Linked DNA regions of Homo sapiens: regions 2 and 3 are each linked to region 1. The links come from fine-mapping of genetic effects on gene expression. A gene starts in region 1. Each other region holds a variant in brackets. All regions are shown on one strand. Distances are between the middles of the regions. Region 1 holds the start of KTN1 (kinectin 1). Region 2 overlaps KTN1 (kinectin 1). Region 3 has its middle 37 kb from the start of KTN1-AS1.

The links. PIP is the estimated chance that this variant, and not a neighbour inherited with it, causes the effect.
Region 2: its variant is fine-mapped to the expression of KTN1 in whole blood (TOPMed, PIP above 0.99).
Region 3: its variant is fine-mapped to the expression of KTN1 in whole blood (TOPMed, PIP above 0.99).

The regions. Positions count from the first base shown.
Region 1 is chr14:55,575,965-55,584,150 of GRCh38, reverse strand. KTN1 (kinectin 1) reads right to left here and starts at 3,944. Exons shown (of 44, transcript NM_001079521.2): 1 at 3,797-3,944. KTN1-AS1 (KTN1 antisense RNA 1) reads left to right here and starts at 4,059. Exons shown (of 3, transcript NR_027123.1): 1 at 4,059-4,215; 2 at 5,414-5,545; 3 at 6,772-7,994. RefSeq lists silencers at 2,626-2,920, 3,100-3,739, 3,800-4,059 and enhancers at 4,500-4,589, 4,600-4,719.
Region 2 is chr14:55,608,791-55,616,976 of GRCh38, reverse strand. KTN1 (kinectin 1) reads right to left here. Exons shown (of 44, transcript NM_001079521.2): 2 at 4,406-4,958; 3 at 323-460. The coding sequence starts at 4,928. Among named protein-coding and RNA genes, the nearest start is that of KTN1, 33 kb to the right of the region's middle. The variant T/A (reference allele first, on the strand shown) is at 4,656.
Region 3 is chr14:55,539,168-55,547,353 of GRCh38, reverse strand. It overlaps the pseudogene RPL7AP4 and the pseudogene ABI1P1. Among named protein-coding and RNA genes, the nearest start is that of KTN1-AS1, 37 kb to the left of the region's middle. The variant A/G (reference allele first, on the strand shown) is at 3,754.

The DNA.
Region 1 (8,186 bases):
CTTTCACTGTGCATAGAGAAAGTCACTGTAGCATTCTGAGAAGATAAGTAATATGATCCAGTTGTTGTGTTGGAAAGACTGCAGGGAGTTAGGGCAGAGGCAGGGAGATCAGTTAGGAGGCTAATTGCAGAAATCTAGGTAAGAGATAAGAATGGCTTGCACCAGGCTGGTGAGCAGTGGAAGCAGTAAGTACTGATTGGATTCTGGTTATATTTTCAAGATAAGACAGAGCACAGAATGCCAAGTGTGAAAGAAATAAGTCAGGGATGACTCCAACGTTTTTTTACCTGAATGTTTGATGGAAACATCAAACATCAAACATGTTTGAGGAAAAATACGGAAATTTAGTTGGAGTTGACTACTGCACATCCAAGTGGATAGGCCTAACAGCACATGTGGAAAGTCTGGGTTGGAGATATAAATATGGGAGCCATCAGCATATAGGTATTTAAAACCATGACACTGGATAAGATTGTCAGAGGAATATAAAAAGAAAAGTGAAACAAGGACTGAGCATGTCAAGTTTAAGAGTAGAAGATGTAAGATAGAATGAACAAAGCAATTAGGAAGGAGAAAGCCCAAAAAGCAGAATGTCCTGGAAGAAGAGTGCAAACAAATTACATTTAGTGTACAAATCACTTTGCTGAAACCAGATTTAAGTTACGGAAGAGTTCTTAATCTCCCTGTAGTAGCTAGGACGATTCGTAAAATACTAAATCATAACTTTTTTTAGGGTATGTCTTCTACATTTCCGAGGAATATTATATTTCCTATCAGAGTATCTACTAAAACTATTGTTAGAATTAAAAGTATATCTTGCCTATTTTCTTTTACATAAAACCAATTAAAAGCTTGTACCATTTTTTAAAAAAGAAAAATAGCCTAGTTTTCACTGCCACCTCTGTCAAAAACACATTTAAGCACAACAGCTCGGCACACAGTTGTAAACTGTCATTATTTCTCTTTCTCTAGACCTCAGATACAGAAGGTTAAATTAAACCCCTTAGTTCACAGCACATAAGGTTCTTCCCCTTAATGTTTAATTTTCTATTTATAGAGGAGGGAAAAAGGCTTATATTCTCATCTAGACCAATATTTTCCCAGTGATTTGAAAATAAATTACATTTTTTGATTGGGACAAAGTCATGTTCACAGGAACTGAAAGAGGAAGCAATGAAATGCAATTCTCTTTGAGCATGAGTGATCACCAATGTCACTTCTAGAGAAATAGTTACTTGCTTGTATCCTCTAAGTATACTCTGGATTTACCTTCAAAGTCACTAAAAACAGTACAGAGAACAAGCAGGTCATAAGGTGTATTCTCAAATATATGAACGATCTTGCAAAGCACGATTTTTCTCATTTCCTTATTACATATTAGGTCAGATTCCCAAGAGAACCAAAACCTTCCTAGAACCACTTAAGTTCATTAACAATTTAATATTTTAACAAAGTATTGGAGATCTTTCAGGTTAAAACTTCATTTGCTATAAAAATTATAGGCATACAATTAAAAACACATGTTCCATTCAAGTTAAGAAATTAACTTACACATAGGAAATGTATAAGACACATTCAACTTTTAAAAAAACAATTATGATTCAGTATTCTACGTGTCATCTTAACCATGACAGGCTGATTAAGAACTTTTAACCATAACTTAACATTCAAGTTAAGAACTTAAGAACAGTGACAATCTTAATATGGGTTCTTTAGAAGTCTCAAAAAGGTTTTCACGTCTTAGGCTCTTTTAAAAAGCCATATTGACTGATATTAAAAATATAATTATTAAAACGATCTCCCTACCAAAAGCAGATTAAAGCCTATAAACTAGAAGGGAGACTGAAGTGAGGCATTTTTAGGGACAAACACAACATCAAACAGAAGAGACTACTGGTATTAAAAGAATACAGAAAGATCTAAATTGGAAACAAAATCGTAAATGTCTCTTCATAATGCTGACGCTGAATCATTAAGAGTTAAATACTTGATATTCTTTATAATTTTCAAGTATTAAGAAAATTTTTCAATAGATCTTGTTATATTTTCAAATTCATTATCAGCCTCAAGTAAATCAAGTAGAACACCTTATTCTCTAAGCTCACTTGATAAGGTATTGTTATGTCTGATGAAGGCTACAAAATTAGAAGAGACATTTGAAACTCAATGTTGGGGTGGGAGGGAAACTCATGAACAGACCCAGCTATTTCAGGTTAGATCCTTAAACTAAAAAAAAAGGAAAAAGGAAAAAAAAAAAGAGCCTTTTTTATCAGGCAGCACATCAAATATGAAAGTCTACTGCAAGGCATGTCTACCCAAAATACTCAAGAGTAATTTAGTGTTATTCTTGGGATCATTATCCCAAGTCTCACCAGCTTGGGATCATTATCCCAAGTCTCACCAGCAATTGCTTCGGACCAAACTGGAGACACTGTTGCCATTAGCCTGCTAGGTAAGCTAAGGAAAACAAATGCAACCTAATTTAGCAAAAATTCTAACTTTAAGTCAACTCCTATACAATTCAGAACCTTTAGTTCACCGAAGATGCTTATCTTTAGCTGGGCTGGCCATGAGTGTCTACATTTCTCAAGGCTTTCCACAAAGTCATCACACACACACACACCTTAACAGTTAACTTCAACCGTAGCTCTTTACTCAAGGCTTTCCACAAAGTCATCACACACACACACTCACACACACACACACACCTTAACAGTTAACTTCAACCGTAGCTCTTTAAGCACTACTAACTTAAATAGCGGCTAAGGAATCCGTTTGCCAACACAGTTCTGAATTTAGATTCCTCCTTCCTCCCACAGGAAAGAAGGGCCAACACTGAACAGCTTACTTTCAACCTAACCTAGTCAAGGTGCAACTGGGGCCGGCTGGGACGCCGCTGCCCGCGTCCGGGGCTGCCCACATCTAGTGCACCCAGCGCCTTCACCGCCAGCATGCGGGGCTGCACATCCCACACCAGACGTATGGCTGAGAGCCAGACGACTTCTCTAGACTTCCCGCGTAGTTTTCCGGCGAGGTCCCCAAGGCCAAAAATCTCACTTTTGGAAACTGAAGGGGTCAGGCCGAATCGCTAGGACACACCCCTCGGGGACAGGAAGGGATAACTTCGCCGGTGTCGAGAGTGGTCCATGGATTTTTCCAAAGTCCCCCCTCATGCTGCTTTCCGTGCCCAACCGCCTCCCGCCCTGACCTGGGGACTCGCAAAGGGCAGCGGGAGGGGCGCCGGGGAAGGGGGCGAGCGCCCAGACCGCCGGAGGCAGCGGCGAGGACTGGAACTCCAGCATGGCGTAAGTGTGGCCCAGCTCCGGCCCGGGGACGCCGCCGGAGACGCGCTGCCTCCGTCCACCGGCCGAGGAGGCGGTAATCCGCCTTCCCTCCCGGGGGCCCTCAGGCTTGGCTAAAAATAGGTGCCTCGGTCACCCCAGGGCCCGCTCGGGTCGACCTCGCCTTCGGGAGAGTCGTCCTTGGGGAGGGTGGGGGGTGTCCCTCGGCCGCGCCCCGGGTGCCGCGACAGAGCCGGGGTCGGGCCCAGAGCGGCCCCGCGAGGCCGAGGAGGTCCCTCCGAGCCCGCCCCCTGCGGCGTCCCGGCCCCAACAAGAGCCCCGCGGCGGCAACCGGATGCCCGAGGCCTACCCAGCGGGCGGCGTCCGGGCCCCGCGGCCGCGCCCCCCCGCCCGGCGCGGCCCTCCCGCCTGCCCCAGGACCCCGCGGCCGGCGCCGCCTCCCCCCGCGCTCCCCGCCGCCGGCGCCCGTCCCGGTGCGGCCTGCTCTCCCTCACCCTGTGCGGCCGGGAAAGGAGACCGGGAAGACGCGGCGGCGCCGGCACTACAGCCCGGGCCGCCCGCTCCGAGGCGCCGCCGCCGCCGCCGCCGCCGCCGCAGTCGCTCAGGTGCCGTCGCGCCGCTCGGCAGGAAACGGGCGGCTTCGGGGCGGGGCGGGGCGGACCCGGCACGTCCTGGCGTCTGGGCCGGCGGCGCCGGGAGACCGGCCCCTTAAAGGGACAGCCGCCGGCCCGCCTCTGCCTCCGCGCGCCTGCCCACGCGCTCCGGTACTCGCTGCTCGCGGCTGGCCGGCTCGGGATTCCGGGCTTTCTTCCCGAGACCGCGTCCCCCAGCTGGGCCGAAGGTGGACGCTCAGGGGCTGGAGGCTCAGCGGAATCCCCTGCGTTCAGTAGCCCCGCTCTCCCCTGTCCCGAAGGTTGGTCTCGTCTCGCGCGGCCCTCCCTCCAGGGCACCACCTGGCTCCCCACGCCTTTTAACTTCAGCAAACGGCACTAGATTTACCCCCTGACTATCCCAGATTTCCCCCAGAAATTACTGGAAAACGACATCCCCCGTCCCTTTCTCCAGGGGATCTCTCTGAAATCTCCTTCGGGCAACGCTAGCTACAAACGGAGAAAGAAATTAGAAAGCGACCCAAATAATGGTCGGGCGCGGTGGTTCACGCCTGTAACCCCAGTACTTTGGGAGGCCAAGGCAGGCGGATCACCTGAGGTCAGGAGTTCGAGACCAGCCTGGCCAACATATAGTAAAACCCGTCTCTGCCAAAAAAAGTACAAAAAATTAGCTGGGCATAGTGGCGCACGCCTGTAGCCCCAGCTACTTGGGAAGCTGAGACAGGAGAATCGCAGGAATCTAGGAGGCGGAGGTTGCAGTGAGCCGAGATCTCGCCACTGCACTCCAGCCTGGGCGAGAGAGTAAGACTCTCCGTTTCTCTCAAAAAAAAAAAAAAAAAAAGGAAAGAAAAGAAAGCGACCCAAATGAGTTGTGTGCAAACATTATGAAAGTGTTGTGACTGCCAGCTGGTAGCCATTTATGAAGCCGGGGTAAAAATCTAGAAACTGCTGCGCGAGGAGGGATGGGCCCGGATCTCTCCTTATTCGTTTGCTCTTTGCTGAAAGGATGGCAGCGATCCTCCCCGTCCACTGGCAAGTGAGTTTCGTGTGGATTGTTTACCGATGATCAATCTCTCACAGGAGGCCAGGCACTGCCCCACTACATGTACAAAACACTCCAAGCTGTCCGCAAATGTTATGAAGGCTTAAAATAATCCTAACGATTCCAGACTGTGGATAGAGATAGAAAAAATTAGGACTCACCACCACCACCTCGCCCTACATCTGACAAAGTGGGAACAGAAGCAGTTAAGGAATGAACAGCAGAACCGTTTCTACACCAACAGAATTTCCTGTACATGGGCTGGTTAAAAGTATCCATACTTTTTATTCTAATCATTTCTAAGTTTTCTAGAGCACCTCCAAAATACAAATGAAAACTGCGCAGTGTATAGTGGCCTGAGATATTGAGAATTCTGCCAGTCTTCAGTCACCGTGTTCTCCACAGATGCATTGTCTTATTTTAACTCCAGAGGCGTCCTCTTTTTTCTTTCTCATTAGGATTACTCTGCCCCTCAGCGGTTCCAGTGCCCTCAAAGCAATCTGTCTCTGAAGTACTGGCTATCTTCTGAGCGTGTGCCAGAAGATCCAGCTTTGTTGAAAAGCGAAGCCGTTAGTCCCTTAATACAAAGGGTAAGTGTATCATTTATGTAATGGAGTTTAAGGGCTCTTGATTAGCTTACAAACAACCATGTTATTTCCTCAGGTTAGTACTAACGCAGGTTTTAGGTTAGAATTAAAAATTTATATCATTCATTTTCCTGACCAGTAAAACCGCAATGTCATTTACAGGCAATAATATTTCGGTGCACTTGTAAGTAAGACAATGAGTGGAGTTTAGGATTTTCTCAAAACATACTACTGCTTATACTAAAGGATGACTTTGTATCACCTATTTCGGCTTTTCTGGCGTTTGAACTTTGACTATAGAAAGGGAAGTGGTTGAATGCTTTATTTTTTATAAGCTTTCTATTTATTCACATCAAAACAAAAAGATTTACTAGAGGCCGGGCGCAGTGGCTGACACCTGTAATCCCAGCACTTTGGGAGGCCGAGCTGGGTGGATCACCTGAGGTCGGGAGTTCGAGACCACCATGGCCAACATGGTGAAACCCCAGCTCTACTAAAAATACAAAACTTAGCTGGGCATGGTGGCAGGTGCCTATAATCCCAGCTACTGGGGAGGCTGAGCAGGAGGATCGCTTGAACCCAGGAGGCAGAGGTTGCAGTGAGCCAAGATGGTGCCACTGCACTCCAGCCTGGGCAACAGAGCAAGACTCTGTCTTAAAAAAAAAAAAGATTCACTAGAAATGCTATGCTTCTCTAGTGTTATGCATAATAGGCAAGCCCTATTATGAATTAACACCAACCCTCTAGGTTTTAAAGTGTAGTATAATATAATTAGCTATAGTTAACACATATAATTAACCTACGATATAATTAACTTTGGCTGCTATTTACTACCCTCCAGTGTCACTGAAACCAACAACTAACTTGTTAAAAAGGATTAGCAACACACCCAGCATCTGAGGTACCTCTAGTTGCAACAACTAAGAAATTAAATTTTATTGAAAACTATAAAGTCTAAACACTGTTACCTAAAGAGCACACATCCTATTTTTTTTTAATTTAACAAAATTGCAATTTACTGAAGACTGTCTTCTGAATTTTTTGCGTGTAACAACTCTTTTTTCTGAGTTTGGGGAAAGTTTTAAAGACAAATAATACATGCCTGCCCTGCAGATGGAGAACAAGCTGGCTATTCCTGTTTTGACTAGGGTAGTTTTCCCATAAGTGGTGACTTGTGTAGAGATTTGAGTAATGCGTGAGTAACAGATTATATCTCTTGACTCCACAAGATCAGGGATAGCAGAAATGAAAGTATAATGGAAGCAGCTGGAGGATTCCAGGTCCACTTTCACCCAAGTAATGGAGACGGAAGGTTCATCGAAACTTCTTCAGCTGCAGATCTAGAAGTCATTAGCTATTCTAGCAAAGTATCTGTCACAGAAAGGTGCTTCATAAAGGTCTGCACTGTGCTCTTTTGACCTGTGTCTTCAAGCATGTGCTGTCATAACAGATTAAAGATGACTGAAAATTATCTGCCACTCATTGCGTGAAAGGTGGGATCTGTAGACCTCCCTCTTGAATTTGGGAGGGTTCTGTGACTGCTGTGACCAATGAATATGGCAGAAGTGACGCTTTGCCAACTTCTGGGTCCAGGCTATACGAGACAGGCAGTTCCACTCACTGTCTCTTAGATCCATGTAAAAAGTTCATCTACCCTGCTGGAAAAACCATGTAGAGAGGCCCTGAGACTACATTGGGTGGGAGAGGGGCTCAGCTGCACCATCTTCCAACTGTCCCCATCAAGATGACAGAAATATAAATGAAGCCTTCTTGAACTCCAGACCATCCATGCTACAAGCTAAATGCCACCAAGCGACCCCAGTTAATACCATGTGGAGCAAAAATATCACTTAACCAAGCACTGCCTGAGTTTCTGACCCCACAGAATTCTGACCCCATACAAATAAAATAATTTTTGTAATTTTTTATAATTCGTCATGTAATAGATAAATGGAACAGCCTTCTTCCAGTCTTTTAAATAGCTGCAAGAAATCTTATTCAAGCAGAAGGAAGTTTCTACTTTGTTCATACAGTCTCAAGACATCCCTGGAGCCTTTCAAGGGAAATTTGGGCAGAAGTAGGTAGAGAGGTAAAGCTATTATGTAACATTACTTAACATGATTAAAACCACCTTAATGTCTCCCATCCTCAAAGGCTGCCAGTGAATTGGAAATTAATGGATTAAATGAGGACAGAGAAACTAGTATTTGTGCATATGCACTGTGCCAGGTATTTAACGTATCTTAGCTCATGTGGTCTTCGAAACAACCCCATATTGTAGTATCAGGCTCACACGGGTAACTAACTAGTGCAAAGACACAAGGCTCACAAACTGCTACTTGACCCTAGAGCTCTTTGACTCCGATTCCCATGTACGTGCCCCAATACCATGTTGACTCCCAAGGTGTAAATCTTCAGGTATACAAACTATTAAAATGTGAATTTTCATTTATACGCAATTTTTGCTTATGATATGTTTTTTGTCACTTGCATAATAATAGATATGTAACTTTAAATCAGCAATATTATACTGGCTATCAACCAGTTTCATGTAAATTTTTCTAACAGAAAGAATGTAGCATTGAAATGTGTACATTTTTGTCCAAGTACACCTGGCAATTGAAAGAAAAAATCCAAGCCACTT
Region 2 (8,186 bases), 33 kb before region 1:
AAAAGCACAAAATTTCAAGAATGTTTTTCTTCTATGGTCTGTATGCTATTTATTTTTTCAAAACTGAGTTAAGAATATTTATAAATGCTTTGCCCTTTGTAAATGGTATATAAACTTTTTCATCTCAAATGTACACCCTGCCCATCTGTCAAAGCGCTATAAAGTCATAAGGCTAAAGATAATTTTAGACCTGCATTAGTATTACAGTTGTCATTAGCACACATTAAACTGGGAGCTAAAGAGCGTGTGAGATTCCAGGGTCCTTGTGCTGGTGTACTTCTCTAGAATTAGCATTATAAAAATACATATCTAAACATCTCACCATTTTCTGTCTTTTGTTTCTTTGATGAAGCTTTCTTCTTCCCTGATCCACTTTCTTGTTTAGTCTCTTGGTGGAGGGGCAATGCTTCTTGCCTTTTTGATGGTACCATGAGAGTTTCCACCTTTTTATCCTGGTCATCTTTATTAAACACAAACAAAAAAAATAATTGTGGCAAACAATGAACATAACGGAAAAGATGCAATCACTGAGTAATTCCCAGAATGTTTTACCACTAAAAATTTAAAGTCTGACATATAACGCTCTCACCAATAACTTTTTCTAGCTTTCTTACTCCACTACACCAGCTCTTCAATGTACTTACTCCTCCTTTCCCATTCCTCAGCTATTTTCAACCCTACTGAGCCTATAGGCATGATCAAGTCTCTATCATCTTAAAAAATAAACAGCAAGGTGCAGCTGCTCACACCTGTAATCCCAGCACTTTGGGAGGCTGAGGCAGGTGGATCACTTGAACCCAGGAGTATCACTTGAACCCAGGAGTTCCAGACCAACCTGGGCAAAGTGGTGAAACCTCATCTCTACAAAACTCCATCTCTACGAAAAAAATAAAAAAAATTAGCCAGGTGTGGTGGCGCACACCTGTAGTTCCAGCTACTCTGGGGCTGAGGTGGGAGGATAGCTTGAGCCCCGGAGGTCGAAGGTGCAGTGAGCCAAGATCACACCATTCACTCGAGCCTCAGCAACAGAGCAAGACCCTGTCGAAAGAAAAAGGAAAGAAAGAAGAAAGAAAAGAGAGAGAGAAAGAGAGAAAGAAAGAAGAAAAGGAAGAAAGAAAGGGAAGGAAAGGAAGGAAAAGAAGGAAGGGAAGGGAAGGAAAGGAAGGAAAAGAAGGAAGGGAAGGGAAGGAAGAGAAAACCCTTCCCCATCACCATAATTCCCAGCATCCCACATCCATTTCCTTACATATTGACAAAATACTCTTAGTTCCTTTTCTACCAATCATTCCTCAGCTAATTGCAACCTGATTTTTATCTCTTTCATTCCACGAAAGGATTAACTCAGATCCCCCAGTGTCCCAAATGCCATATTCTACAAATACTCATTACTCCTTATTTGACTACTCTTTGGCATTTTATACTTTTGGTCTCTACCCCTTTCTTAAAATTATCTCCTCTCCATTATGCTAAGTAAAATATGGCAGTGACAAAAAGATAAATATCGTATAATTTCACTTATATGACATTCCCAGAGTAGTCAAATTCATAAAGACAGAAAGTAGAAGGGTAATTGTCAAGATATGGGGGAAGGGGGAGGGACGGGGGAAAAGGGGGAGGCAGGCAGAATGGGGAATTAGTGTATAATGCGTACAGAGTTTCATTTGGAAAAGATGAAAGAGTTCTGGACTTGGCTAGTGGTGATGATTATATAAGAATGTGAATGTACTTACCACCACAAAACTACACACTTAAAAGTTGTTAAAATAGTAAATTTCATGCTGTAATTTGCCACAATAAAAATAAATAAAATAAATTATCTCCTATCAGTTCCCATGATAATTCTCTTCTTACACTTGAAATATTCCTTTGCGGTATCCTTTGGGAACTGCTTCTACTGAATACTGCTTGTTCTCAGGGTTGGGGCTTCAATTAAAATACTTCCCTTGGATGAGCTATCTACTCCCATGCCTTCTACTACCTTCACGCTTAAGGCTTCTGAATCTACTTTTCTACATTTACATACCCTACTGCATCCTGAGTTGCTCTACGTAGATGGCCCCACAGGCATTGGAAACACAAACTGGAAGTGTTCTCTTCTCAATTCACATCTAGTCTCTCTCCAGTATTACCTATTTTAGTGCTACCAACCATCTGCCAAGCACAAGTTGGCAAACTTTTTCTGCAAAGGGCCACGTAGTAAAAACTTTAGACCTTATAGGACATATGGTCTCTGGTACAACTATTCAAGTCTGCCACTGCAGCATGAAAGCCAGTCATAAACATATTATGAATGAGTGAATGAATGTAGCTGCATATAAAAACACTTTATGAGTACTGAGATTTTGACTTTTTTTTACATTTTTACATTTCTCAAAATATTATTCTATTTCCCAACCATTTAAAATGCAAAAAGTGTTCTTGGTTCATGGGCATAAAAAAAGGAAGTGGGCTACATGCGGCTCACAGGTTGCAGTTTGCCAACCCCAACCTAACTCAGAACTTGGGAGATCAGCTTTAATCCTATCTTCTCCTTTATCTGCCACACCTCTATATAGTGAGGTTATTCGTGTCATTCTTACTTTGCATACTTCTCAACTTTGTTTCTTCTGTCACTACCATAGTTCAGGCCTACATCTTAATTTTAGAAAACTAAAATAACCTCTTAACTAGTCTGCCGGCATCAAATACTGCCCCATGAAATCTGTTCTTGCTAGCTCTGCCAAAAAAATCTTTCTAAAACAGAAATATGACCATGTAACTAAACTGCTTGAAAATCTTCAACAATGGCTAACCTAAGAAGTCCTAGCTCCCTGGCACAGTATCCAAAAACCACCATGATCTAGCCACTGCTATCTTTTCAGCTCTGTTCCCTACCACTCTCTATACCTCACGTTGTATGGCTCAATAATACACTGTACTCTTGCAGCTCTGTGCCTTTACATGATATTCTGCCAATGAGTAATGAGACCCCACTATCTGCTTGATGAAGCGATTCAATGCTCAGGAACTGCCTCCCCTGTAAAGCCTTTCAGCCCAGCATAAGCAGTAGTTGCTTTAGCTTCTATATTTCCTCTATACTTTCTCTATCTCCTACATAAACCACATTTTTTTTACTGGCTTACGTGTCCTTTTCCCCAACTAAAACATGTAGTTCTTACTATGCCTTGATCCTAGCTGACATGCAAATATTTAAAATCCAATACAACCGGGTCAAGCGTGGTGGCTCACGCCTGTAATTTCAGCACTTTGTGAGGCCAAGGCAGGCGGATCATTTGAGGTCAGGAGTTCGAGACCACTCTGGCCAATATTGTGAAACCCCATCTCTACTAAAAATACACGCCTATAATTCCAGCTACTCGGGAGGCTGAGGCAGGAGAATCACTTGAACTTGGGCAGCAGAGGACACACTGAGCCAAGATCGCACCACTGCACTCCAGCCTGGGTGAGAGTGTGAGACTCCCATCTCAAAAAAAAAAAAAAAAAAATCAAATATAACCTCCTACAAGTTAAGACACACAAATGACTTAATGGTACATACAAGTCCTTTCAAATAAAACAAACTGTTTACAGTTTCACACATCGCCACGCCAATTTTCAAGGCTTTTCCATTGTACCTATCAACCCCCTTTCCCTGGAATCTCCCTCCCCTCCCCATCCACCCAAAAAACCTAACTAGTACTTAACCAAACTTTAAAAATTTCTGGCATTACTTGCTTTAAGTGGTCTACCTTAGAATTCCTACACTGGTTTAGACATATCTAGACCATTACACTAAATCTTTCATAATGACCTATCTGTGTCTACAGCTAGCACACGACTACCTCGAAAACGCACTATTCATCTCTGTAGCCCTAATACCTAGCATAATGCCTAGCATAAAACAGATATATGATAAATGTTAGCAAAATGAAGCAATCAAGGGTGAGAAATGATATCTGATTTTAGCTTTTCACCTTTAATTCTTACCATATCATTTAGAAAGTTCGTAACTGCTGATATTTACAGGTCCTAAGTGGTTTTAAGTAAAATAGCCAAAGTTGGATATTTATAAGATGTATGGGGTTTTTTTTTTTTCTTTTAATTTCTTGTAGAGATGAGGTCTCACTTTGTTGCCCAGGCTGGTCTCAAACACCTGGGCTCAAGGGGTCCTCCCACTTCAGCCTCCCAATGTGCTAGGATTACAGGCATGAGCCACTGCATCAGGCCCTGAAGTTTAAAGTGCTATTTTATGATCAATACTAATTTCTACCAGCAATTAATGTTAATGAAGCAAACACATAATGAAATGAATAATCATGGTTTCAAATTCAATATTAAACATTCTGTGTATGTACCTAACAGAATATCTCAATTCCAAGCTCCAAATCATACAATAAAATTAAATAGATTAAATAGATTACAATACCGCTTCCATTTTTAGACTTCTTCTGCCCTGGTTTCTTCTTCGAGGCAGCTGCTTCAGAGGGAGGGGTGGGCTGTTTAGTAACTGGGACAGGTTCTACTTTTTTGCCAGGAATCTTTGATGCGTCACTTTCTTTGATGACCTGCTCTTCAAGCACAGGCTTTTGTTTCTTTTCCTTCTTTTTTCTTTCCCTAACACTACTTGAAGTTTCAACGACATTCAATGGAACAGGTGCAACTTGATCATCTTCTAC[T/A]GCCAAAGCATCTGATAATTTAAAGTCTCGAGGTACACTCTCAGAGTCGGATTCATGGAGGTTTCCATTCTGGATTTCTTTCTTTTTATTCTTTTTCTTTTCTGCTTTCTTTTTATCTGTTTTGGTAGGAATAAGCTTTTGTTCTCTTTTCTGTTTTGCAAGAACTTCATCATATAATGTTTCTTTCATGAAAAGCCAGAAGAAGAGGAAAATTACTGTAATAACTATTGAAGGAATAAGAACAATAAAATATGCTGACTCATAAAACTCCATGGTACTTTTGTCAATGTGATCCTATAAAACCTAAATAGGGAAGAAGGTGGGGACAAAAAAAAAAAAAGAACCTGTCAGTCTCATAAAAATTAAAGTCAAAACTGCTGCTCTTTCAAGTGGCATTTCAAATCTAACCTGACCTACAAATCTAAACAGGTTAGTTCTTTAAATCACATTCTTGATTTATTTGCCAACTACAATTCATATATACTATGAAAAATAAGACAAGTGGTAACTAGAAGGAGTAGAAAACATCCTTCCATTTCTAAATCATGTGAAAATATCCTAATTGAAGAGAAAAAATTTAAATATTCATTACTTTCTTTTCCCGAAATATCCACTTTTGGTACTTTATTAGTAGTTAACTTTTTTGTTTATTGTACAGTGTTGATAACTACTACACGTGAAAATAAGGAGGTACTATTACCAACTCAATGGACATTCATTAAAAGTGTCATATTCTGAAATGCACACACACGCAAAAAGAGGTGGTTTATTTACAGATTAAGACCAGTCACCAACTGCTTGCATCTTTACACCAGTGACTATCAGCCTCATGATGCAGTGGGATCTATCAAGGATATAAAAATCTAATAAAATTAAAATTGAAATGTTAGGATGTGGCATTTTGCATTAAAATAAATTACAGACCAAGCGCAGTGGCTCATGCCTGAATCCCACCACTTTAGGAGGCTGAGGCAGACGGATCACTTGAGCCTAGGAGTTCCAGTCTACCCTGGGCAACATGGCGAAACCCTGCCTTTACAAAAAAAAAAAAAAAAAAAGACAAGAAAATTAGCTGGGCGTAGTTAAGTGAGCCTGTAGTCCCAGCTACTTGCAGGCTGAGGTGAGAGGATCACCTGAGCCTTTGAAGTCGAGGCTTCAGTGACCTGTGACTCTGCCACTGCACTCCAAGCCTGGGCAACAGAGCAAGTCTCTGTCTCAAAAAAATAAAATAGTGAAATAAATTACAAGTTAGGAACTTATCTCAGTTTTTTAAAGGCACCCCATACTGCACAAAACAAGTTATACAGCAAAAGCGAGGCTGCCATCAACATCCTACCGAAATTGCTAAATAAAAGGCTTTGCCTCATCAACAGAACATCAGCCCTACTTTTAGATGGACTCAGTAAGTACGCCCGGGGCGGGAAGGGGGCGGGTGGCGATGTAATTTGACTACCAACATCTGCCTTGAATATACATATCACTTACGTGAAGGGTAGTTTCTGCTAAAATTAAATCTCAAAGTATAAATGATTCTGATGTTGAGATTCTAGATATTGATGCTCCTTACAAACATGCATAAGCCACATAAAAGTGACTTGTATTCTTATTCATCTCAAATGTGTTGTAGAAAAAGACAAGGTATATAATACAGATATAATTAAACATCAGGACATGTTTAGGATAAAGCAAATTAAAGTTAATTGCTACACTTTTAATGTAAAAATAAATCTGAGAATTTTTTAAGTTTTTAAATTATCAATTTGGAGAGTCTTGATATGTCATGATTAGATAAAGAAACCAAATTCTACCTAAACGGGTAACTTATTCTAAGAATTATTTTACACCTAAGAAAATACCTGATTTTAAATTGGATAAATGTGAGTTTATTGAATATAAGACTTTGCCAGAACTGTAACAACACGGGTTTGAACTGCACAGGTACACTTACACATGAATTTTTTTTTTAACCAATTGTTACTGAAAATACGTATTTGCTGGACGTGAAACCCAAGTATATGGAGGGTCAACTTTGTATACTCAGGTTCCACAGTACTCCAGGACTTCCAGCATGCTTAGATTTAGGTATACACAGGGGTCCTGAAGCCAATCTCCTGCATATACCAAGGAATGACTGTCGTTTGTTCAACAGGCATGCTATTAATCTATATGACTGAAGTAACATTTCATACTTCCATAAGCAATTTTTTAATAGTATTAGTTATACCCTAGATTTACTAAGACAAGGTTTTAACAAGTTAAGGGGGAAAAGGAATCATGTGCTAACAAAATACTAAAAGAAACTCCATACAGAATTGTTTCCCTGATAATTCAAATTAACATGAACTATCCAGGTTTTAAAATTAGACACATTTCACTGTGCCTCCATTAAGTGTGATTCGTCAACCAGGAATGCTTTAAAAGAGCCCAGAATTTTTTTTTAAACATAGCATCCATAGAATACACAGCCTATTCAACAAAAGCTGGGCAGTCGAGGGAGAAAAAACACAAAACAATGAGTTGGAATGCTTCGAGTTTTTGCTTTGGTGAAGAAGAGACGCTAAGGCACTTAGCAGCAGTAATAGAAGCTGAAAAAAGGGGTAAAAGTCAAAAAGGCCTAATGAATAAGCTGCAGCCCTGTACAAACCTAGGTTTTAGGAAAGCAGAAATTATGATCAAGCACAGCAAATTCACCTGTATAGAAAGAAAAAGTAGCAAATGTTCAAGAAGAGAGGGTATGAGACCACAAGAATTCTGAAACACTGATTCTTCAAATGTTTTAATGATTTTCTAGTTTCCTTTCCCAGGTCCCATATATAGGCGTGAAGGAATCAAGCTTTCTGTCTCTGGATTTTCACGGGAGTCTCTCTTCACACAATTCAATTCACCTTCACTTGAGCTCACCTGAGTCTCACTATGCATTTAGAGGAACCTAACTAGACACCAAGAGATGAAGAATCAAGAAAATGTTTGCTGCAGCCATAAAAAGGAATGAGATCATGTCCTCGGCAGGGACATGGATGAAGGTGGAAGCCATCATCCTCAGCAAACTACCACAGGAACAGAACACCAAACACCACATGTTCTCACTCATAAGTCGGAGTGGAACACTGAGAACATATGGACACAGAGAGGGGAACAACACACACCAGGGCCTGTTGCGGGTGGGGGCTGAGAGGAGGGAACGTACAGGATGGGTCAGTAGGTGCAGCAAACCACCATGACACACATATACCTATGTAATAAACCTGCACGTTCTCCACATGTATCCTGTTTTTTTTTTTTTAGAAGAATAAAAAAGAAGAAAATGTTTGCATTCCTTTAACCCAACAATCCCAATTCTTTATCCCTAGGAATTTATTTGCAAGAAAAAAACATATAGAAAGATGTTCACAGGCTGGGCATGGTGGCTCATGCCTGTAATCCCAGCACTTTGGGAGGCCGAGGCAGGCGGATCACTTGAGGTCAGGAATTCGAGAGCAGTCTGATCAACATGGTGAAACCCCGTCTCTACTAAAAATTCAAAAATCAGCC
Region 3 (8,186 bases), 37 kb after region 1:
TCAAGCAGTTCTCCTGCCTCAGCCTCCCGAGTAGCTGGGATTACAGGCACCCGCCACCACACCTGGCTAATTTTTTGTGTTTTTAGTAGAGACAGGGTTTCACCACATTGGCTAGGCTGGTCGTGAACTCCTGACCTCAGGTGATCCACCCACCTTGGCCTCCCAAAGTGCTGGGATTACAGGTGTGAGCCACTGCGCCTGGCTGGCAGTGTGCCAATTCTTGCAGGCTGGTTATTTACATGCTTGGCACCATGGTTCACATCATTCAGAACTGTGTAGGCAATAGGTATCCAAACATACCTTATAAGACGCTCCATATTTGCAGGCGCTATTATTTTGTGAATTCTTGATGTAGTCTTATTTGTTGTCCAAATACCAATATCTCTTCGAGCTACTTTCTCTTTATTAATATCCATGATCTGTGAGATATGATTGATGAAAGACTCCATTCTTCAAAGTTGAAAGGCTTGGATGTTCACCAACTGGAGTACATTGTTAGACACTGTAGTTTTTTGATAAGTGACACTAACTGGAGGTCCGGTTATGTAGGCTTTGGTCTCTTCTAAAGCTTTTCTCTTGTCTTCACAGTAGTTCGCCACCTGGTTCAGGTTCTGGTAACTCTCTATCAGTGCCCTCTTGTGAGACAGGATCTCCTCTAGTAACATCTGCAGCTCTGCCATTTTCCACCCTTCTGTATCGGTTCCTCTTGCATTAAAGAAACAGAGGCAGAAAGTTCTACTGAGGCTCCCAGCACCTCATAGCCTGGATCCAAACCACCTTGCCACCTGGTATTGTCAATTTGTTAATATTTTGTTGAGGATTTTTGTATCTATGTTCATGAGAGATATATCTGTAGTTTTCTTGTAATGCCTTTGTCTGATTTTGGTAGTAAGATAATTATGGCCTCACAGAATGAGTAAAGAAGTACTACTTCTGCTTCTATTTCTAGAAGAGACTGTAAATAATTAATGTAATTTCTTCCTTAAATGTTTGGCAAAGTTACCAGTGAACCCATCTGGGCTTTCTGTTTTGGAAGGTTATTAACTATTGATTCAATTTATGTAGTAGACACAAGTCTATTCAGATCATCTATTTCTTCTTGCATGAGTTTTGGCAGATAGTGTCTTTCAAGAAATTGGTCCATTTTTATCTAGGTTATCAAATTTCTGGATATAGAACTGTTCATAATATTCCTTTATCATCCATGTATTAATAATATCTATGGGATCTGCAGTCATGTACTCTTTTTCATTTCTGATATTAGTCATTTTTGTTCTCTCTCTATTTTTCTTAGCTTGGCTAGAGGCTTATTACTTTTGTTGACCTTTACAAAAAACTAGCTTTTTTGTAAAAACTGATTTTATTGACTTTCTCTATTGACTTCCTGTTTTCAGTTTCATTGATTGCTGCTCAAATGTTTATTATTTCTTTTCTTCTGTTTACTTCGAATTTAATTTGCTCTTCCTTTTCTAGTTTACTTAGGTGGAAGCTTAGATGATTGATTGTAGATTTTTCTTCTTTTCTAATATATTTATTTAATGCTATAAGTTTCCTTCTAAGCACTGCTTTCACTGCATCCCACAAATTTTGATAAGTTGTATTTTCCTTTCATTTAGTTCAAAATATTTTTTAATTTTTCTTGAGATTTCTTTTTTGACTTATGTGTTATTTCGAAGTGTTTAATCTCCAAGTATTTGGGGATTTTCCAGATATCTTTCTGTTATTGATTTCTAAGTTTAATTTCATTGTGGTCTGAGAGGAGATATTGTATGATTTTTATTCTTTTTAATTTGTTAAAAATTAAATGGGTCTGCCTTGGTGAATGTTCCATGGAATCTTGAGAAGAATCTATCTTCTCCTGTTATTGGATGAAGTAATCTACAGATACCAACTATATCCTGTTGATGGATGGTGCTGTTAAGTTCAACTATGTACTTACTGATTTTCTGTCTGCTGTATTTGTCCATTTCTGATACAGGGGTGTTAAAATCTCCAACTATAATAGTGGGTTCATCTATTTCTCCTTGCAATTCTATCAGTTTTCACTTTATGTATTTTGATGTCCTATAGTTAGGTGCATACATATTAAGGATTATTATGTCTTCTTGGAATACTGACCCTTTTATCATTATGTAAGTTGGTTTCTTTTCTTTTCTTTTCTTTCTTTCTTTTTTTTGAGACAAAGTCTTGCTCTGTGGGCCAGGCTGGAGAGCAGTGGCATGATCTCTCACTGCAACCTCTGCCTCCCAGGTTCAAGTGATTCTCCTGCCTCAGCCTCCCGAGTAGCTGGGATTACAGGCATGCGCCACCATGCCCAGCTAAGTTTTTTATTTTTAGTAGAGACAGGGTTTCACCATGTTGGCCAGGCTGGTCTCGAACTCCTGACATCAGGTGATCCACCGGCCTCAGCCTCCCAAAGTGCTGGGATTATAGGCATGAGCCACCACGCCCAGCCGGTTGGTGGATTTTTTTTCCTCCTCTTAGTACTTTTAAATATTTTACTCCATTCTCTTCTTGTTTGCATGGTTACTGTGGAGAGGTCATATGTAATCCTTATCTTTCTTCCTCAAAAGGGAGATTATTGTTTCTCTGGCTCTTTTCAAATTTTTCTTTGTCTTCATCTGAAATTTGAATATAATATGTTTAGTTGTAATTTTTTTTTTTTTTTTTTTTTTGGCATTTATCCTGCTTGATGTTCTCTGAGCTTCCTGGATCTGTGCTTTGGTGTCTGACATTAATTTGGGGAAATTCTCAGTCTTTATTGCTTCAAATATTGCTTCTGTTCCTTTCTTATCCTTCTGGTATTCCCATTTATGTATATGCTATACTTTCTGTAGTTGTCCCACAGTTTTGAATATTGTGTTCTGATTTTTCAGTCTTTTTTCTCTCTGCTTTTCAGTTTTACAAGTTCCTATTGCCATATCCTCTAGCTCAGAGATTCTTTCCTTAGCCATATCCAGTCTCTAATGAGCCCATCAAAGGCATTCTTCATTTCTGTAACAGTCTTTTCATATCTCTAGCATTTTTTTAGAATACTCATCTCTCTGTTTATGTTATTTGTCTATTCCATGTTGTCTACTTTTATCATTAAAACCCTTAGCTTATCGATTATAGTTTTTTTGGGAGAATTTGTATTATTTTAATTATTTTTATATACAGAAAACTCAACAGTGTACCTTTAACTCACTTTGGTGGCAAGTTCTTTAGCCTTTGCCTTTTCCATATGGGCAATGTGAGCCACAGACTTGGGACCCAGGGCCTTGCCTCCCCAGTGACGGCAGATCTCATCAGATCTGTCATTGTAATTGGTCCTGATAGCTTCCACCAGCTTAGCCAAAGCCCCTTTGTTTTCCGAGTTAACCTGTGTGAAAGCAGCATTGGTGCAGGTCTTCCTGTGGACTAGACATCCCAGCCTTGCCTTCCTTTTGATAACGCAGTAAGGGACCTCCATTTTATGGCACAGGGCAGGCAGGAAGACAACCAGCTTGATGGGCTCGACATCCTGTGCAGTCACCACGGGCTGAGCCTTCTTGTTCTCCACCAAGGTGGTGACGGTGTTAACTCCTGCTCGAAGGACCGGTGGTCTCTTAGTGGGGATGCCCCCTTTGCCCAGAGCTTTCTTCTCAGCCAGGGCCAACAGCCTCTGCTGCTTCTCTTGCTTTGTCTCTGGGCCAGCTTAAACAGCTGAGTAGCTGTTTGGCCTTCCAGGTCCTGGGTAAACTGGTTAATCGCAAGAGGCACTTTCAGCCGCTT[A/G]TAGAGAATGGCTCTCTGCCCTCATATAGTGGGGCCATTTCACAAAACGAGTGAGCTCGCTTTCAGGCCGGATGTCCTGTCCGATGCCAGAATTCTTAGGCTTTTTCTCAAACAGGGATTCACCACTTTCTTGGCCTGCTGCTTCTTTACGACAGCAGAGGCCAGAGCCACCTTTTTGCCCTTGGCCTTCTTTTCAGCATCTTGGGTGGCAGGAGGAGAGAGCAATTATAGTTTTTTAAATTCCTAGTCAGATAATTCCAACATTCCTGTCATATCTGAGTCTGGTTCTGATGCTCATTCAGTCTCTTCAAACAGCATTTTTTGCCTTTTAGTATGCCTTTTAAGCTTTTGTTAAAGGTGAACATGGTGTACTGAGTTTTAAAAAAAAAAAGTAAAGTAAATAGGATTTTAGTAATGCAGTGGTAAGGTGTCTGGGCGGAGGGGGAGGAAGTGTTCTATAGTCCTACGATTAGGTCTCAGTTTTTATTGTTGTTGTCTTTCTTTTTTTTTTTTGAGACAGAGTCTTGCTCTGTCGCCCAGGCTGGAGTACAGTGGCGCAATCTCAGCTCACTGCAACCTCTGCCTCCCTGGTTCAAGCAATTCTCCTGCCTCAGCCTCCCAAGTGGCTGGGATTGTAGGCATGCACCACCATGCCTGTCTAATTTTTGTATTTTTAGTAGAGACGGGGTTTCACCACGTTGGCCAGGCTGGTCTCAAACTCCTGACCTCTGGTGATCCGCCCGCCTCAGCCTCCCAAAGTGCTAGGATTACAGTTGTGAGCCACTGCACCCAGCCTGGTCTCAGTCTTTTGTTGAGCCTGTGCCCCTGCACTGTGAACTTCACAAGTGCTTTTCAGGTGTTTTTCCTCTTAGGTGAGACAAGATAGCTAGAGGAGGCTGGAGTTGGGTCTTTCACTTCCCCCAGGTAGGTTAGGCCGTGATAAAGCCCCAGCAAGTAGGGCTCTGGTAAAATAGTTTCTCCTGAGGCAGGCCTTGTTAGGAAAAATAAAACGCTCTGGTGTATTTCAAAATGGTTTCTTTTTCCCCTCCCCCTGCCAGAAGCACAATATTTATGATCTAATATCGTATGTATAGTTGCAATGTTTTTGGCATTTATCTTGCTTGATTTTGAGCTTCCTGGATCTGTGGTTTGGTGTCTGACATTAATTTGGGGGAAATTCTCAGTCATTATTGCTTCAAATATTGTTCCTATTCCTTTATTATCCAATAACATTATCCGATATTTATTGTGAGGAGCTGGTAGAGTTCCCAGAAGTAAAACTCACAAAAGTGTGCCCCCATCCCCACCTTGACTGGGTCTCCCTGGAATTTTTAACTCTGAGAGCTGCCCACACTGAGCCTCTATTAATTCATCAATTACAGTTCAGTTATCCTGTCACTGGTTCCGCAGAGGTTTCTGCTCCAGTAAGTTGTGATTCTGCTTCTGCCTGTCTCTCTCCAATCTTTGAGGCAGCAGTTTGCCCTGTGATCTCACTCTCTGACAGATCTAAGAAGAGTTCTCGATTTTTCAGTTTGTTCAGCTTTTTACTTATTGTAAGGCCAGCGTGGTAACTTCTAAGCTTCTTATATGCCAGGTGGGAAACAAGAAGTCCTATCTAGGTTTTTTAAAAATTCACACATCATATGTAATTTATCTAAAATTGACACATATTACTTATATAGTAAAGAAAAAGGCTCATTTTTGCTTTTGTTTTTCCTGCTTGACATATGCAGTTTCTTCCTCAGTAAAGCTCAAGTCAAAGGCTTCTAAGGCTAGATTCTATATAAGGAGCAAACAGGATTTGGGAAATACTCTTCTACTATAGACCATGCTTTATCATAATGGCTTTTAAATTTGCATTTGTTGCCTCGTGACCACAAAATAGCTGTTGTGATTTCAGACATTATATCTCAATTCAAGGTACGAAGAGAGGAAAAGCAGCATAAGCCCCGTCTGTCCTTTTCACTAGGAAGACAGAAAATCCTCAACAAATCCTGCTTCAGTCTGGTTGACCAGACCTATGTTTCAGGGATGCTCCCAGCTACAAGAGGCTGGGAAAAGAAGCCTCTGAATGAAAATGTGATGGGCAGGCAAGAAAGGAATTGAGAATGGCTGCTGGGTTAGGCAATCCAACAGAACTTTATAATATTTGAAAATGGTATTAACCTTTCCTTCACATTATTGATTCATTCCTTCTGCACAGACAAGAATCAGACATTGACTAAGCTTATGAGTTTACTGTAACCCTGCTGACTCATAGTGTTTATTCAAAACCAATACCTTGATATTATCAACAGAGTCAGGACTGAGAGAAACTGTTTTTAATAAAACAATTTAAAGTTCTAGCAGGAGAAAACAGGGTTGTTTTAATCTCTACCAACCCCACTTTCCCACCTTATTAATTATACTTTTGGAAGATCTGGATAAGCCTACTCAATCTTCAAGTCTCATTAAATATTTCCTCTTTATTGAATCCTTCTCTAGATCGTAGATCAGTTTAAGAACTCCCTGCTCTATGTTCTCATAGGCCTCTGTTCTTCGCTTATCACAATACTAATGCTTTATTTCAATTCCTGATTAGAGTTCTGCCTACCTGACTAAAGAGCAGAGTTCATTGAAGTCAAGGATTGTCTTCCCTGTTCACTGCTGATATATAGTATAGACTTGTCAATAAATGTTTATTGAATGAATGAATGATTGCATCCCCCTTCCAACACCACCAAAAACTTCAAGATATCTATTATCCTATAATTGTCACACAGGGTCAAATTAGGACATCGAAACCACTCAGAATAGTTAAAGCAGAGGGAATTTACTACACTGACTTGATAACACAGGAGATAAAAGATGCTGAGACTGGATCTCAGCATCTGAGACTACCTGAGAAGACTACCTGAGAATGGATGTTACCTCAGATGGGCAGAGCAACAGCAGGAAGCTCTTAGGACCCTTGGGTTGGAGGGACTATATGAAAAACTAATATTACTACAACCCCAACGGGTCACAAATGTACAGCAGAAGTCCCAGTACAGTGTGGCTCACCTGGGTCCCCTATTTAGAGTCTCATAAGGTCAAAATCAAGATGTTGGCAGGGCTGCACTCCTTTCTGAAGGCTCTAGGTATGAATCTGCTTCCAAGCCCTTTCAGGTTGTTGGCAAATTCAGCTCCATGATAATGTAAGACTGTGGTCCCAGTTTCCTTTCTTTAGTGTCAAATAGGAGTGACTTTCAACCTCTAGAGGCTGCCCCCACATTCCTTGGTTCATGCCTCCCTTCATCTTCAGAGCCAGCAATGGCAGATCAAGTCTTTCTCATGCTTCCAATTTCCCGGACTTCCCCTCTGCCTTATCTCTCCTGCTCCCAGCCGGAGAACTCTCTCCTGTTTTAAGGGCTCATATGATTAGAGTGAGTCCACATGGCTAATTCACAATAATCTTTCCATCTCATAACCTTAATCACATCTACAAAGTCCCTTTTGCCAGGCAATGTGTGGACATCTTTGAGGAACCATTATTCTGGCTATAACAGCCTCCCATTAGTCAAACTCAGCTAGATTTCAGTTGGTACAAGGTGCTGAGAAACAGGCCTGCAGAGCAGGAGAAGAGTGAGGAATATATCTGAGGACAAGCAGGCTCAGTATCACTACATTTTAAGATGACAACATGTTTTTTCTTCTCAAACTTCGACTGGCCTAACAGATAATTGGCCTGATTTCAACTTGTCAAAGATAATGAATTAATCCCAATTACTATAAAAACAAACGAACAAAACCCACAGTGATGACATACCTGAAATTATATTAATTCAAATATAAGGCAATTGTCAATTGGCTTCCATTATCTGCCCAACCCTGATTCTCAAACAAGAGTCAGCGAAAATTATTATCTTCAGCAGAGGAATATGAAAATGAGGCCTAGGCCAGGGAGGGAAAATGCATACAATTCCAATCTCAAGAAGTGCAGAGTTTGAAGTGAGTCCCTGAGTCCACAGTATATTCTTGGCCCAGTCTCTGGATTAAGCCATCGAGATGAGAGCCAACTAACCCAGAGATTCCTGGAATCATTTTTGCTGTCCCAGAAGACTCAGCCAGCCACAGGACCCAGAATTGTCCCCAGAAATATTTATGTCAATAAACTGCTGCCATATGATATCAAACTCCAGCAGGGACCAGGATAGACTGGATAGCAGAGTCAAACTCTTAAAATTATCCAGGGCAATCAATGAACAACTCTACCTTGTTGTAATTTTGCACTCTGAATAGTTTTATTAACCACAAAATAACAAGACTGCATTTTGTACTGCTTAAGTTTTTGGACCACACAAGTTTCAGAGATGGTATTTACAGTATTTCAAAACTCAAACGATCATTTTTGGTAATCATCCTCCAGCATTCAACTTGCTTCTAATTAACAAGCCTGCATGGCAGCAGTGCCT